Linked DNA regions of Homo sapiens: region 1 is linked to region 2. The links come from fine-mapping of genetic effects on gene expression. A gene starts in region 2. The other region holds a variant in brackets. All regions are shown on one strand. Distances are between the middles of the regions. Region 1 holds the start of GRWD1 (glutamate rich WD repeat containing 1). Region 2 holds the start of CYTH2 (cytohesin 2).

What was found. PIP is the estimated chance that this variant, and not a neighbour inherited with it, causes the effect.
Region 1: its variant is fine-mapped to the expression of CYTH2 in transverse colon (GTEx, PIP 0.96). The same link has a PIP of 0.9 or more in fibroblasts.

What each region holds. Positions count from the first base shown.
Region 1 is chr19:48,443,239-48,451,654 of GRCh38, reverse strand. It overlaps GRIN2D (glutamate ionotropic receptor NMDA type subunit 2D), which reads right to left. Exons shown (of 14, transcript NM_000836.4): 14 at 6,724-8,416. The coding sequence ends at 7,718. GRWD1 (glutamate rich WD repeat containing 1) reads right to left here and starts at 5,672. Exons shown (of 7, transcript NM_031485.4): 1 at 5,463-5,672; 2 at 5,153-5,270; 3 at 4,812-4,974; 4 at 1,129-1,342; 5 at 847-989; 6 at 424-621. The coding sequence starts at 5,649. RefSeq lists enhancers at 5,592-5,681, 5,842-5,921, 7,094-7,785. The variant G/A (reference allele first, on the strand shown) is at 4,032.
Region 2 is chr19:48,465,698-48,474,197 of GRCh38, reverse strand. It overlaps CYTH2 (cytohesin 2), which reads right to left and starts at 4,829. Exons shown (of 12, transcript NM_004228.7): 1 at 4,672-4,829; 2 at 3,698-3,845; 3 at 3,529-3,595; 4 at 1,755-1,873; 5 at 820-900; 6 at 181-293; 7 at 1-16. The coding sequence starts at 4,690. KCNJ14 (potassium inwardly rectifying channel subfamily J member 14) reads right to left here. Exons shown (of 3, transcript NM_013348.4): 3 at 7,218-8,500. It overlaps LOC105372430 (a long non-coding RNA gene), which reads left to right and starts at 4,665. Exons shown (of 3, transcript NR_186576.1): 1 at 4,665-5,187; 2 at 7,591-7,629; 3 at 8,260-8,500. RefSeq lists silencers at 379-579, 4,624-4,813 and enhancers at 4,177-5,170, 5,364-5,523, 5,228-5,728.

The DNA of each region.
Region 1 (8,416 bases), 23 kb after region 2:
ATGTCACAGCGGCTCCTGTCCTTTCTGTGCCTCAGTCTTCTCCTACAACGAGCAGGCTGGGCCCCGATTCTCAGTTGCATCTAGAAATCTACAACTCTCTGAAGCTCTCAGCACTGGCCGTACAGACACCTGTACTTCTGCCCACAGGCAGATGAGAGTCCTAGTCTCTGCTGCCCCAGCCCCTTCCATCTCTTGTCAGCTGTTCCCCTGGTAGAGTGAGTGACCCCAAGAGTGGAGACCCGCCACCCTTCCTCTTGCTGAGCCTCAGTTTCCTCCTCTGTACCCTGAAGAGGCAGGAGTCTAGTTCTAAGGGCTCTCCAGCTCTGGTTGTGTAAAACTATTCAAGGAGGAAAAATCCTACAAATCCCAGGGGCTGCTGGGAGCAAGCTTCTCTAGCCCCCAGGTGTCCGGCTGGGAAAATACCTTGAACTGCCGAAGGTCCCAGATCTTGAGGGCCCCATCATCCCCGCCACTGAGCAGGAAGGGCTCCCGGCGGCTCCAGCTGATGACATTGACGTCCCCATCATGGGCGGTGGCTGTGGTGAGCATGCAGGCCTTGCTGGGGGCTGCCCGGATGTCCCAGATGCGGATGGAGGCGTCAGCTGAGCAGGAGGCAAACACCTGGGGGAGGCGGAGTCTGAGTGGTCCCAATGCCCCCCAGCCCGCAGTGAAGCCCAAGCGCCAGCGGTGGGCTACTCTCTCTTTCACTGTTCCCCTTACTATGACTTGGCCTGGAAACTAAACCTCCGTCAGGCTCCCAGCCCTCTTTTCCCTCAGACCTAGGATTCTAGGTCCCTGGCCTAGAATCCATCAGAACTAAACGACCAGAACCCCACCCTCCCTCACCGTGTTCTCAGTCGGTGACCACTGCAGGTCCTCCACAGAGCGTGTGTGGCCCACGAATGGCCGCTGGTCCACGTGCCAGGAGCCGCCGTCCGTAGGTGTCCAGAGGTGGATGTTCTTTTGACAGTCACCGGTCAGCAGGCGACCTGGGGAAGGGAGTCAGGAAATGACCTCGCCCCACCTGGCCGCAGCTCGCTCCCCTCCTTGGAGTCTAAGCGCCCGGCCCCTTGTTGCAGACCCTGCTCCCCCGACCTCCCGGGACTCCTGAACACCCCAGGGACTCACCGGTCACCCGGGGGGACCAGTCAAGGGCAAAGCCCTCGCCCATGTGTCCAGCGAAGGAGAAGATGGGCTTCATTTGGGCCTGCTCATCCCGGAGGAAGGCTGCCAGGGCCTGGGGCTCCTCCACCACCTGCAGAAGCCGCCGCAGCGCAAACACCTCCACCTGGCCCTTCTCTGACCACACCCCAGCCACAGGCTCTTCACCCAGCCATGACACCTGCAGAAGAGCGGTGGGGGAAGGGTGATGTGAAGCGAGGGGAGAGGAGGATCAAGGCACTGACCCCACGCTCCCCATATCCCAGAGAACCAGAAGTGCGCTTCCTCAGATCTCCCAGGCCTGGGACTACAGCTCCTTGAAACCTCTGTGGGAAGAAAATCACAACCTGCAAAAACCAGCATGGTAACTGGGACAGCTCTCCACAGGGGGTGGGAGTGGGTGGGGGAGCTGAGGTGGGAGGATAGAGCCCCAGGATGCCTGGGAGTTGAGGCTGCAATTCCCACCAGCCCTTGGGAGGGTGTTCAGGCTCCTGGTCTCGGTAACCCTCTAAATGCTAGAAGGCCACAAGACTCAGTCCTCGGATCTCCTTGCCTCTGTGTTTGTTCACTAGGAGACCCAGTCCAGCCACGAGGTTTCCAATACCCCTAGCCCTGACCTCTCCCCTGGGCTCCAGACTCTTACTGCATTGACCGTTCAAACTTTTTTGTTTTTGAGACAGGGTCCCGCTCTGTTGCCCAGGACGGAGTGCAGTGATGCCATAATGGCTCACTGCAGCCTCAACCTCCTGGGCTCAAGTGATCCTCTCACCTCAGCCTCCCAAGTAGTTGGGACTATGGGTAAGCACCATCACATCTGGCTTTTAAAATTTTTTTGTAGAGACAGGGTCTCACTTTATTGCCCAGGCTGGTCTGGAACTCCTGGTCTCAAGCGATCCTTCTGCATCAGCTTTCCAAAGTGCTGGGATTACAGGCATCAGCCACTGTGCCAGCCTGACCATTCAAACTTGATACAACCAAAGCCAAGCTCCTAATTGCCACCTGCAACTGCTCTCTCTCCACCTCAGGCCCCAAAATTCAGAACTCATTCTTGGTCCTCATGCCCAGCACCTATGCTGACTACAGTAAAAATGCTCACTTCCAGGGCCAGGCGCGGTGGCTCGCACCTGTAATCCCAGCACTTTGGGAGGCCGAGGAGGGCAGACTGCCTGAGGTCAGGAGCGAGACCACCCTGGCCAACATGATGAAACCCCGCCTCTACTAAAAATGCAAAAATTAGTCGGGCGTGCTGGTGGGTGGCTGTAATCCCAGCTACTTAGGAGGCTGAGGCAGGAGAATCGCTTGAACCCAGGAGTCAGAGGTTGCAGTGAGCCGAGATCGCACCATTGCGCTCCGGCCTGGGCGACAAAAGCGAGACTCTGTCTCATCTAAAAAAAAAAGCTCACTTCCAACCCCCTTCTCATGATGTCTATTGCTGTCACACTACTACTGATGTCATCCTTCCCCTGAATACCGTAAGTCTCCCCACAGGATTCTTTCCTCCGACCCTTACCTCTCTGCAATTGATATTTAAGGACAGCAGCCAGAGGGACCACTTTAAAACAGAAGTCAGACCCTGTCTTTCCTCTGCCTGAAACCCTCCAACGTCTCCCAATTAAAAGCTGGAGTCCTTACAGTGGCCGACAAGGCTCTGAACAATGTCTTCTCTGTGCCCGCTCCCCAAATTGTGTCATTCTCCCTTTTGTTCATTCTGCTCCAGACAGACTGGACACTCCCGCTTCACTTGAAACTCTTCAAACATGCCAAGCTCACCCCAGGGCCTTTGAACTTGTGTTTTTCCTTGCCTGCAAATTCTTTTACAGGGTTCACTGCCCCACTACCTGTGAGTATCTATGCAAATGGCATTTTATGACAGAATACTTTCCTAACCACACTGTTTAAAAATAGCACCCCACTCCTGGAGCACCCTAACCCTCTTCCCCTACTTCATTGGATTTTTTCCAGGATAGTTAACACCTTTGGACATGGTACACATTTACTTAGTTTCATCTCGTTCCCTTCCCCCACTAGTGTGTAAGTTGATGGAGCCAGAGACCTTTTGCTTGCTGCTAAATCCTCTGCATCTAGAACAGTACTGAAACATAGTAAAAATAATTTCATGGAAACAGACAGCCCCAGCTATCAGCCAAGTACTGCTCTAAGTGCTCTTCATATACCGTATCATTGTACTTACAAGTCTACCTGATCAGAAGATGTTTTAGCTTTGAAGCAAAAAACAAATAAACAGGCTGGACACAGTGCCTCATGCCTATAATCCCAGCATTTTGGGGGCGAAGGTGGGCAGATCACTTGAGCTCAGGAGTTCAAGACCAGCCTGGCCAACATAATGAGACTCCATTTCTACTAAAAATACAAAAATTACTGGGCATGGTGGTGTGCACTTGTGATCCCAGCTACTCGGGAGGCTGAGGCAGGAGAATCACTTGAACCTGGGAGGCAGAGGTTGCAGTGAGCCAAGATCACGCCACTGCACTCCAGCCTGGGCAATGGGAGTGAAACCATGACTCAAAAACAAAACAAACAGCCACAACCAAAAACAGTTCCTGAATAGTAACAGAAAATACATACCTCATATTACAACCAGGTGCTATTCTAGGCACTATATGTTATTTCATTTGACCTCATGCCAGCCCCATCAGATAAGTTCTATAACTCACTATGTTACCAAAGAGAAAAGTGAAGAACATAAACCATATCCTCATAATCTAAAACAGTACCTAACATGTAATGACACTGATCATAATAGCTAAATTGTATAAAACTATGTGACAAGTACTTTTCTAAAAACTGAAGGAGGCCGGGTGTGGTGGCTCACGCTTGTAATCCCATGACTTTGGGTGCCCGAGGCGTGC[G/A]GATCAATCACTCGAGGTCAGGAGTTTGAGACCAGCCTAGCCAACAAGGCGAAACCTTGTCTCTACTAAAAATACAAAAAATTGGCCAGATGCGGTGGCTCACGCCTGTAATCTCAGCACTTTGGGAAGCCGAGGCAGGCGGATCACGAGGTCAGGAGTTCACCACCAGCCTGATCAACATTGTGAAACCCCGTCCCTACTAAGAATACAAAAATTAGCCGGGCGTGGTGGCGCGCACCTGTAATCTCAGCTACTTGGCTGAGGCAGGAGAATCGCTTGAACCTGGGAGGCAGAGGTTGCAGTGAGCTGAGATCATGCCATTGCCCTCCAGTCTAAGCGACAGAGCAAGACTTCATCTCAAAAAAAAACCAAAAAACAAAAAATTAGAAGGGCCTGGTGGCAGGCGCCTATAGCCCCAGCTACTTGGGAGGCTGAGGCAGGAGAATCCCTTGAACCTGGGAAGGGGAGGTTGCAGTGAGCCAAGATCGCACCACTGCACTCCAGCCTGGACAACAGAGCGAGACTCCATCTCAAAAAAAAAAAAAAAAAAAATGGGCCAGGCACGGTGGCTCACGCTTGTAATCCCAGCACTTTGGGAGGCAGAGGTTGCAGTGAGCCGAGGCTGCGCCACTGCACTCCAGCCTGGGTGACAGAGCGAGACTACGTCTCAAAAAAAAAAAAAAAAAAAAGAACATGAGGAGGTGTTGGGAGTTATGGACACAGGGGATGGGTCAGATGTGTTTCAGAGTATGCAGAGCAGGCTCCTGGGACCATACTTACCCGAACTCGGTTGATGCCACCATAGTGGGGCACCATGGCCAGCTCCAGCTGAGGTTTCCGCTCTTCTTCATCCTCTTCATCTTCCTCCTCTTCTTCTTCATCACTGCCCTCTGAGGGTGGGGGCTTTGTCCCATGCAGATTGTGCATCCGAAGCATCATCAGTCTGGGAGAAATTGTGGGGTGAGTTAGGCACTAGATTCCAGGATTCTTAGGAAGGAGAGAGGCTGGAAACCCAGACTCCTGGATCTGCGAGAGGCAGAAACTGGAAGCCCTAACTCCTGGGTGCTGAGGAAGGGGCTGGAAACTGAGCCTCCTGGTCCTGGAAAAGCCTCGGGTCTTACCTGTTGCTCTGGGCGCTCTCAGCCTGGGTCCCAGCACACAAGTAAAGTGTAAGAGGAAGCTCTGTCCGGTTGTCTCCCAGGTGATCCCGGACTATGTCAAAGCTGAGACAGGGGGCGCCTGGGGATGGAAGGCGGGGTTTACGAGTTAAGACGGGACAGTAAGAGCTCAGTCCCCACCTCCCTCATGGATCAACCGCCTCCGGTATGAAATCACTTCTCTTAGACCCCAGCCTTCTCTTCCCGAGCACCTCTCAGGTTAAAGGCTCGGGATCAGCCACCTCAGGACCCTGGAGTCCGGACTCAGCCCTACCAGTCTGCGCTCGGTGGTAGAGCACATAGGCCTCCTCGTCCATGACCAGCTCCTCCCCTTCGCGTAGCGGCGGCCCCCGGCCGGGCAGGTAGACCTGGGCCGGGCCCTCGGAACTTGTGTCGCCGGACTCGGCTTCCATGGGTTCCCCGGTTTCACACGTGCGCCGCCGACCCTTGCGCGCCGCCATCTTCGAACCCTCTCGCTGCTGACACCCGGTAAGAGCGTCACTTCCGGGTTTCGCTTTCCGCCTAATGAGATCCGCCCTACTGCGCGGTTACCTTGGAAACTCCTGGGACCGCTAATCGGAGAGGGTGCGGAAACGCTGGAGGAGAACTCAGGTAATGGCGCCAGCGAAAGAAGCCTGCGGATACGGAGAAACTGCATCTTCGCGTGACTTTGGGCGCTGTTCCTCGCGGTAGTGGCAAGGCCTTCTGGGAGTTGTAGTTCTACGGGAGGCTTGTTTTCCCCATTGTCCAGTTTGATTCCGAGAGCGTTCTTTCCAGTTAATTAATTATTCATATATGCAAATTTGCTCTTTCACTGGCAAGGAGACTGAGTTTCTACTCCCCGAGGACCCATAAGGCCGGTTTCTTTTCCTCTCTCTGTTGTGATGGCTTTCATTTGTTTCAAAAATGCTTTCTTGTAGACAGGATGGATATTATCTGTAAGTTAGGCGGTTCAATCTACCCTCTAGGGGCAGTCAATTGCCTAACCAGACATTCACATTTCAGCTCTGGTCAGCGAGCACTTAATCAGAAAGTCCACCCTCTGGAGGCAGCTATTACAAGTGCTTCGTCTCTCTTTATCGCCCATCAGCACCAGCGGTTTGGCTAATTGACATAATGAAATGTTAGAAATAGATTCTCATTGGTGAGATTAACAGCATTCAAGATAATGCGGATTGGCTGGGATATGTCAGACACTCTCCTAGCTTGCATGAACAGGATATTGAGAATGTAGCAAGCCTTGGTACCTATAGCCATAGGAAATAAAACCATACCTTTGATCTTAATATGTTTTGTCTCCGGGATCTATCTCACCACTCTCTTGGGGTCTCTTATCTGCCCCAGTACCCTCTCGACTTTCTTTTCAGGGTCTCTTCCCACCTCCTCTTTCTTGGTCTTTGTCTCCCCAGGCACCTCCTTTCAGAGTCTCTGTTCTCTCTCTAATTCTGTCTCCTCTTCCCCTGTGGGACTTTTGTGTTTCTGTTTCCTCCAGAGAATTTGAGGGGGGCTAACAGATACGGAGCTTAGGCTTGGACTGAGGAGGCATAAAAACATGGTTTATTCCAAACACTGCAATGTGGAATAAGAGAGTGGGAAGGGAAGTTGGTGGAGAAGTGTGGACTCCCAGACCCTCCCCTCCGCAACCCAGCCCCAGACCCGGCTGGAGATCTGGGCAGAGGAGGCTTTTTGGAGGTCTGCTGGGTCATCACTGAAGGGTCGCAAATAAGGGTTGGATTTGGAGAGGATGTGCTTGGTGGCAAGTGGGGTGGTCCGGAGGTGCGGCAGGGTGGGAAGTTTTGGCTTCAGGGAGGTTGGGTTCATCGCGGTGCAAGGGAAGGCGGGGCTTCCGTTGGGGACGTGTCCTAGGTCAGAGTAGGGAAAAGCGACCGAGGGTGGAAGAGGAGGAGGGGGTGTCACGGTTTGATGTCAAGGGTCACAGTCTGGTCGGGGCACAGTCTGGGGTTCGGGTCACAGTTTGGGGTCAGGGGTCACAGTCTGGAGTCGGATGACCATTTTAGGAGTCGGATGTCACAGTCTGGGTCAGGGGTTTCTGTGTGGCGGGGCCAAGGTCTGGGGTCACAGTTTGGCGAACGCGTCTCACAGTTTTGAGTCCCAATGGATGAAAGGTTAAAAACGGGCTTCCCCGGAGGCGCGGCTGGGGCCGGGGAGCTGCACAGTGATGTGGGGGCCACGGCCCCGGGCGTGGAGGTGGGACGCGGGAGTGGCGTGAACCCCCCACCTCCCGCCCCATCTGGTGACGTTAAAAAGCCCTTGTCGGGTTTAAAAAAAAGTCCGGTGGGCTCCAAGGCCCCCGCCCCCTCGTTCTCAGGCTGGGTGATAGTTGAGGGACCAAATCCTCTCCGGCTTGCGGTTCCTCCAGAACCAGGGGGCGCAGGACGCTGCTCCAGGCGGGGTCCGGCCAGTTCCACTGCTTTCCTTCCCAACCCACGCGGGTCCTGTCCACTGCGGGCGCCCCCTCGGGCCGTGGCCTGCGCTGACCAAGGGGGCGGTGGGGCCCCCGGGGCCGCGTCATACCTCGGACTCGAGGCTAGAGAAGTGCGCCGAGCCCCTGCGGGTGCCCAGGTCCCCGCCCCGGTGTCTCCGGTGGGAAGCTGTGGGCAGCGGCGGCCCCCAGTGCGCGGCGTGCGGACACCTGCGAGCGTGGCGGGAGGGCCCGGTAAGCCTGCGCGCAGGGGCGGCGCGAGGGCACGAGCTGAGGTCCTCGAGCGAGCGCGAGGTGGGCGCGGGCGGCGGGAGGTCCCAGCCCCCAGCGGCGCGCCGGTGCCTGTGGTGGTGGGGCGCGGCGGCGGCGGGCGTGCGGTGCGAGGCCCGCGGGCGGTGCGGGTGCGACCGCGGGCACCCGCAGCGGGCCCGGCGTCGGGGCAGGGGCCCGGCGGCCCAGGGTGGAGGCGGTGGCGCCCACCAGCCGCCGTCCAGGCCATCGTGCGAGCAGCTGAGATGGCGCGGCGGCGGCAGCAGCTCCAGGCTGGCGCAGTGCCGACAGTGCCAGGCGGCCGGACCGCTGCGCGGGGGCAGGTAGTCCCAGCTCCCGGCGCGCCAGCCCCCGAGCTTGTCGACCGACCAGTAGCGGCCGGGCGGCGGCCCGAGGCGCTCGGCATACGGGTAAGGGAAGTCGGCGAACCACCAGGGCTCCAGGCCGCCCAGCGACGCGCCGCCCAGGCTCTCCGAGTCCTCCGAGTCCGACGGCGACGGCTCGAGATCGAGGTA
Region 2 (8,500 bases):
AGCACATAGCACGTGTCTGCACCGGACAGGGCAGGTGGTGACGACCCAGGCATGTCAGTCCCCAGTGCCCCCATTCCCCAGGACCCAGGATTCCCAGCTCCCAGCCCCCTCCCTCCCTCAGACCTAGGAGTCTGGGCCCCAGTCTCCTCTTTCCCAGGACCCAGGATTTGGGGCCCGCACCTGTGGACTGGAAAACCCCAGGGTTGCACAGGCAGTATCGCTGGGCGAAGGCCTCCATCATCCGGTCAATTTTCTGGGCCTCTCCGGGTAGGCGAAAGCTCCATAGAAACTGCCTGGGTTGGGGAGGGGCCAGGAATGGATGCCAGGGCTGGTGGGAGCCTGTCCCCACTCTCAGTCCCTGTGTTAGGAACTGGTCCACGAGGAATCCCGACCTTCCGGCCTCAGCAGTTGTTTCAGGTATGGTCACATGATCCAGTCTCACCAATGGGCATTGGCCACGGGAGTGTTGTGAATCCCTACAGAAATAGCCTCTTTCTGCTAAGTTCGCTAGACAGGTCTGGGGGTTGGTTGAGGCTTGTTATCAGGTAAGCGGGTCTGCAGAGAGCAATGCTGACACAGTGGCAAATACAAGAGGCAAAGAAAGTCGACTTTCTGACCACCATTTGAGCTCCTGGATATAGCCATACCTGAAGGAGGCCATAACCCTGAACTTTTATGGTGCAGGACACACTCAGTTCCCTAGTTTTTGTTTCTGTTTTGCTTGTTTCTGTTTTTTTCTTGAGTAAGGTTTGTCACTTGTAACTAGGAAGGCCCTGACAGGTACATTCCTGGCGTTCCAAACCCCTCCCCCTCACTCACCTGAGGGCCTGCACCAGATTGAGGTCGGTGAACTCATGCAGATCCACAAAAGCATGGAGCACTGCCAGGTTCAGTTCTTCCCTGGAAGGATGGGACAAAGACACATACAGTTTGGAAAGGATGGGGCAGGAATGGGCAAAGGGCAATGCCCTGGGGAAGTCGTGCCCCCTCTACTGCACCACAGCTGCCCACTGCCGAGGGTGAAGTTTCCTGCTGGACTCCCACACAGGCCTGCCCCCAGGGTGGGGGATGCTCAGAACACACTCTTGGGAGGAATATCTGGCTTGGGAACCCTGCTTAGGCCAGACCTTTGTACAGTTGGGAGAAATGCCGCAAACATGTATGCTACCTACTGTCACCTCTCTCAAATGATCCCCATGCTCCCCAGGTATCCAGACACAGCCCCCACATCCCCCAGACATCCAGAGATGCTTCCCAAGCACCCCAGATCTCTATAAATCCCTGATTCCCAGACGTCCACAGATGGCCTCCAATCATCTGATGTCCAGTCCTGTGCACCCTAGGCTTCCAAATGACCCCCACAACTCCTAAGCTCCCACAAGGGCCCAGCGGTCCCCACAGCTCCCAGATGGCCACCCAGTGCCTATGCACAGCCATGGTCTACCCACGGTTCTCAAGCTCCCATGATCCTTGAGAGATGTTCTCTACCCTTCTCAGACATAAATGGATGCTTCCCCACAACTGCCAGGTAATTCCAGAAGGCCCCACATCCCCAGATGCTCTCGGTTGGCCGCAGGCTCCCCTAGCCCATGTCAGTCCATTCTGTCACAGTCCAGTCAGAAGGCTGATCTGCCAGGGCCCCTCTGCGGGGAGGCTGCAGGGCTGTTCCACCTGTGAGCTGCCAGTGTGAGGGCAGGAGCTGGGTCTGGGGGGTGGGAGGGAGGGGCCCCACAGGAGCTGAGTGGTGACCGTACCTCTCCCCCAGGTAGTCCCCGATGGCTGTCTTGTTCAGCCCCTCGCCCTTGTACAGGAAGCGGGCGATCTCCTCGGGTGTGTTCTGCAGCAGTTCATTCTCCACCAAGAACTGGATCCCCTGGTGGGTGGGGACAAGGTCTCAGTGCTGAGGGCCAGAAAGCCACCCCACTCACCTCCCTGGGAACCTCAGCATCCAGACCTACCCCCACCCTCAACAGACCAGGGCCAGGTTTCATTTTCAGCCTTCTCACAGGTCTTAAATAGCATTCTTCCCAACTCATGGCCTTTGCACTTCATGGCCTACCCTCTCTGCCTTTGCCTGGTTAATTCCAGCACCAACAACAGGGTCTGGCAAGGCACAGGTGCTCAGTACATTTTCTCTTTTTTCTGAGACCTGGTCTCGCTCTATTGCAGACTGGAGTGCAGTGGCGTGATCACAGCTCATTGCAGCTTCGAACTGCTGGGCTCAAGGGATCCTCTCACTTCGGCCTCCTCAGAAGCTGGGACTATAGGCATGCCCCAACACACCTGGCTAATTTATTTATTTATATTTTTTCTAGAGATGAGTTATCACTATGCTGCCCAGGCTGGTCTCAAATTCCTGGCTTCAAGCAATCCTCCCTCCTCGGCCTCTCAAAGCACTGGGATTACAGGCATAAGCCACCGAACCCAGCCAATCAATGTTTGTTGAATGACTGAACAGAATTCCAATTGCTTCAGGAAAGAATAACGTGACAACCTGTTAGCAGACGCAGTCCTTCAAGGGCTGTGAACTCGAAGCCCTGGCTAGACTGGAGGTTTCTCTCACTCTCTGTGCTACGAAGACCTCTCTACTACTGCTTTATCTCACTGTGAACTGTGGTATCGGTGTCCAAGGGCTCTCTGAGCACAAGGCAGCATCTAATTCTTCTTTGGGTCCCCAGCATTGCCCTACACAGGATCAGACTCTTGAGAGGCCTCAGAAAATGGGTGTTAAATGAGTATGTGAACAGGCCAGGCACGGTGGCTCATGCCTGTAATCCCAACACTTTGGGAGGCTGAGGCGGGCGGATCACCTGACGTCAGGAGTTTGGAAGCAGCCTGGCCAACATGGTGAAACCCCATCTGTACTAAAAATACAAAAATTAGCTGGGCATGGTGGTGGGAGCCTGTAAGCCCAGCTACTTGGGAGGCTGAGGCAGGAGAATCGCAGGAGGCGGAGGTTAGTGAGCCGAGATCACATCGCTGCACTCCAGCCTGGGTGATAGAGCAAGACTCTGTCTCACACACACACACAAAGAGTAGGTGAACAAAAGCCTTTCCTCCACCTGGTGAACACCTACTCATCCTTCAAACCCGACCTGAATGTCTCCTCCTCAAGGAAGCCCTCCCTGACTCCACCAGCCTGCCTCCTCCAGAGGTCCACTACCCTGATACCTTCCTCCGTCACGGCACCTTTGTGGGAGAGAGGTCAACTCTCCTTTGTGCATGTCACTTTGTCCACAGCCCCTACAAGACTCGAGCTCATCTTGGGACCAGAAATGCGCCCATACAAGTAGAAAGTGGAAGACGACCTTCCAGGCAGGGGACAAAACAGTCAGGAGGGCTGGAACACTTGGTCAGTGTTCAGTGTTCAGAAAACAAATGGACAGCCAGTATCTGAATCCAGGGATTAGGACCAAGTCTGTCCACCTAGAATAGACCCGGCACCATCACGCTTCTGGAACCCGGAGGTGCCAGAAGCCCCTGCCTGGATGTTTGCCCAGCTGATCCCAGTCCTGTGGCCCCAAGCACCTTCTTGGGGTCCATGTTGAACTTCTTCCTGCCCATTGCCATCTTCCGGTTCCGTTGCAAGGTCTTACTGCAGGAGCAGAGAGCAGGGTTGGGGGTGGAGGGTCAATGCCTGGGCATCCCTGGCCTCAGCCAACCCCACGCCCCCTAGGTCATCCGCCCCAGCCCTCACCTGCCCTCATTGGCCTCCAGCCCCTCCACCTCGCTCATGGCTTCACTGAGCTCCTCCCGCAGGCGCTGAATCTCCACCAGCAGCTCCTGCTTCCGCCGCCGGATGTTCTCCAGCTCCATCCGCTCCTCCGGAGTCAGGTCTGGGGGTTCTAGGGATCGGGGTCAAGGTTTAAAAGTCAGTGCTAGGGGCCGTGAGCCTGAATTCCTGCAATCTGGGGGCGGACAGAGCTGGGAGAGGATGTGTAAGGGGCTTCCTATGTCTGCACAGAAGAATGGGCTGGGGGCCTGGATTCCTCCCTGCAGAGGAGAAAGAGCTGGGGCTCTAAACTCTTGAGTCCTGGGGGACAAGGGGAATTGGGGCCCGGATTCCTGAGTCTGAGGGAGAAGGGGAATGGGTGCCTGAGCTCTTAGATCTGAGGGAAGAAAGGGCTGGGGGCCTCGGCTTCTAGGTCCATTACTTGGAAGGGGACTGAGGCCTTGGTTTTCTGACTCCATTACTGGCGAGGTAGCTGGGGACCTGGTTATCCGGACTACTGGGTCCATGAAAAGTCACTACAGCCGGGGGAACTGATGACAGCTCAGGAGAGTTGGGAAGGTGGGGCGGGACATCGAAGGCCCCCGCCCCCCAAGATTTCTCCCCTCCCCGCAACCCAAGCGCCCCTCCCCGGCCCCGGCAGGCGCTGGGCTCGCCCGCCCCTCCAGCGGGAATGGTTCCGCCCCGGCCTCGCCTCCACCACTCCATCCCGCCCCTCCCGCCGCCACCGGAAACAGGCTCAGCCCAAACAATGGCCTGGAACGCCCGGCTTTCGGGCCCCGCCGGAAGCCCGTCCAGCGCCCAACAAAAGCGGCGCGACAAGTCTACGACTGAGCCGAACGCTTCTGGGCGCCGCGCGCCAGGGGGAAACGTTCGCGGCGGAACGTTCAGGAGAAAACGCTCCAGCAACTCCCAGCCGACCCCGCCCCTCCCCGACCTACCATAGACGCCGTCCTCCATGGCGGCTAGGAAGGCCCGCGGGGAATCCGGGGCGGTCCCGCCAGTCGGGCCTGGATCCGCGTTGGCCCGCGGGCTCGGGTGAGCCCGCTCAAACGCCCCGGGAGCCACCGCCGCCTCCTCAGCGCCAGTCCTCAGCGCTGAAAAGACTCTTCCCTTCGTCGCCCAACCGCCCCTTCAGTAGGGACCGCCCCTCTTTTTGACACTGTCCAATCCACAGTGGGCGCTTTCGTCCTCCCCGCCCTCGCCACCAAAGGATCGTTCTCCAGGGCCAACAGTCGTACAAAAAGCCGGTGTAGGTATGTCCGGCCAGAGGTAGACGGCCCGCGGGGCCAATCGGAGTGCAGGCAGGGCAGCAGGCCCCGCCTCCGAAACAACAGAAAGCACTTGACAGGCTTGCTCTCCAATGAGAAGCCCCGGAAAAGTGTCGCGCGGAGGCGGAGCCACGCGGTACAGCCACCTCTGCGCCTGCTCAAAGGCCCTGGACACTTGGAGTCTAGGTAAACCGAGCCCCGCCTCCGATAATACGTTGCTAGGGGGCGGTACTTTGTTAGTCTTGTTGCTAGGAGGCGGGGCTAGAACTGGCTTGTTTCCGTAAGCCACACCTCCTAGCAGGCCATGCTGGCTTCTGACCGCAAAGGTTGCCATGCAACCGGGAGCGGCTTTAGGCCTCCTTTTCTTTTGCATTTCTTCTCCGCGTATTTCCCCTCCTCTCAGCCCCTTCTTACCGCCGAACTCCTTCTTTATCACCATCTATGCCCTCCCCATCCCCCTCAGCCTCTTCGGAGTCGTGGAGTGGTGAAACAAAAGACTTCTTCGTTTTTTCTTTTTTTTTTTTTTTTGAGACAGAGTCTTGCTCTGTCGCCCAAGCTGGAGTGCAGTTGCGCGATCTCGGTTCACTGCAACCTCCGCCTCCCGGGTTCAAGCAATTCTCCTGCCTCAGCCTCCCGAGTAGCTGGGATTACAGGGTTGCACCATGATGGTGCATGCCTGGCTATTTTTTGTATTTTTAATAGAGACGGGCGTTTCACCATGTTGGCCAAGCTGGTCTCGAACTCCTGACCTCATGATCCGCCCACCTTGGCCCTCCAAAGTGCTGGGGTTACAGGCGTGAGCCACCGCGCCTGGCCAAGATTTACTTTTTTCTAAATGCTATGCTATTTGGTATCGGTCATGGGGAATGGAACAGGGGAAGGTGAAATTTAGTGAAAGCACAGGCTCGGCCTTCCTGGCACCTTCTGCCGCTCAGACTCCTCCCTCATTTCTCCAAACTCCTTCCTTTAGCTTAGCATCCTCCTAAGACTCCTCCCTTCCCCAAGCATCCTCCTGCTAAGACAACTCCCCTTTCCTCAGCATCCTCCCACCTCTCTGATTCCTTCTCCCATCTCAGAGGCCTTTTTTCCTCTCTGGCTCCCCTCACGTCACGGTCCCCCTTGTCCTCTCATACTCTTGCCCTTTTTTTTTTTTTTTTTTTTTTTGAGACAGAGTTTTGCTCTTTTGCCCAGTCTGGAATGAACTGGCATGATCTCAGCTCACTGCAACCTCCACCCACAAGGTTGACGCGATACTCCTACCTCAGCCTCCCAAGGAGCTGGGATTATAGGCGCCCACCACCATGCCCGGCTAATTTTTGTATTTTTAGTAGAGACGGGGTTTCGCCATGTTGGCCAGGCTGGTCTCAAACTCCTGACCTCAGGTGATCCACCCGCCTCAGCCTCCCAAAGTGCTAGGCGTGAGCCACCGTGCCCATAGGCGTGAGCCACCGTGCCCAGCCACCCTTGCCCTTCTTAAACTCCTCCCTCCTCTGAGGCCCCTTCCCCTTCCCCTTCCCCAGCCTCTATGTCCCATTATTTGTAACGGAATGTGGTCAAGGGACTGGCTGGAATAGGGAACCCAGGCACCCCTGTAAAGAGGGAAGCCGTAATGGGGGCTGAAGTGGTGTCTGGGCCTCGTCCTCATTTGCTGTCCCTGGGCTGGGCAGGTGGAGACGGATTCAGGGCCAGGACCTAGTTAAGCTGTCGGATTAGACATGGAGGCTCCTAATCCCCTCACTGACCTTTATGAGTGGCCCAGGCCCTGCCCTCCCCAGTGGAAACCCAGGCTGGGCTGCCCTGCTCCCATACTCCTTTCAAACGAAACCCCCTCCCTGCCCCTTCACTTCCAACTTAACATCCTTCCCCAACCCTGCGTTTCCATTGCCCCCATCCCTACCTACCCCAGACACCCTGAGCTGAGAGAGCAGCCAGCTAATTAATCCCATCCGGTTATTACATGGGGATTCTGAGGGATAAAGGGAGATGGAGAAGCTGGAGGGGGCATTTGGGTTGATGCAGCACTTGTGAAGGCTGAATGGCAATGACAGTGGCTGCCCTCGGTCCAGAACACGGGGTGGGAACACGTCCTCCTCACTGTCACTGGCTCCCTCTGCAGTTGGCTCCCAGCCTGCGGGGCACTTAGGTAGATGGTAGCATGGGCAGGGGGCCAGGTCGGAGGACCCATGCTCGAGAAACACATTCGCAGACACATCCGCTAGGGCTCCCAGTTCTTTAATCTGGGGGACAGGTCTCCCCCTAAAACACTCACTCTCCCACAATGGGAAGAACCCTGGTGTCCAGAGCTACCTCCTCCTCCCCAGGTCCCCAAGCTAGGCCAGGGAAGTGACTCTGGCTGTTAGCCACAGCCCACGCCTACCCTTGCCCTGTGATTCAGACACCCGAGTTCAGAGCCAGCCTCCAAGAGTATCTTACATCCCAGCGTCTCCTGGAAGGCCGTATGATCCAGCACTGGGGAGAGGAGGGAAATCCCCAGGACTCGAATGCCCATCCCACCCTTGGTGTAGTGAGGACTCATCCTGCTGGAAAGGCCCCTGAAGAACTTCAAGTTCCAATATCCCGTTTTTACAGATGGGGAAACTGACATGAAGAGGAGTCCAAAGTGACACAGTAAGTTGGGGCAGCATTGGGATTTAGAGCAAAGCTTCTGGGGTCCTTGAAAAGGACCTCATTCCAATTAGCTAGCACTCCATCTCTAAGCCTGTTGTAGGGACCAAGGGAAAAAATAGATAGATATCTGTATTTATATTACATATATATAATATACATATGTATAATATCTTTAAGAAACAGACACACGGCTGGGCATGGTGGCTCACACCCGTAATCCCAGCACTTTGGGAGACCGAGGCAGGTGGATCATCTGAGGTCGGGAGTTCAAGACCAACCTCGCCAACATGGCGAAACCCCGTCTCTACTAAAAATACAAAAATTAGCCAGGCATAGTGGCTCATGCCTGTAATCCCAGCGACTCAGGAGACTGAGGCAGGAGAAACACTTGAAGCCGGGAGGCGGAGGTTGCAGTGAGCTGAGATCACGCCATTGCACTCCAGCCTGGGCGGCAGAGCGAGACTCAGTCTCAAAAAAAAAAAAAAAAGAAAAAGAAAAAGAAATAGACACACATCACTAGGTGTAGGGTTCCAGAGCATTCTAGACTCACCAGCCCTGGGCCTCCCCCTTCCCTTGTCCACTAATTAGCCCTGTGCCCTACAGGGTCTCACCTTCACCTTCACCTTCCAGGTCAGGCCAGAAATGTTGCTTCTGAAGTCCTGAGTCCACCTCCTAGCACTGCCAAGCAGTCCACCTGGAGGTGATGAGAACTTCCAGGCTTTGGTAATGGACAACTCTGTATCCCTGGAGCCTTCATTCCTTTTGGCATTACAGAACCACAAGAAGTCATCTAGAATCATTGAGATTCTCAACTCCATTGGGCAAACTGGAACCAGCAAAATCTCAGATATCTAGAATTGCCACTGCTTCC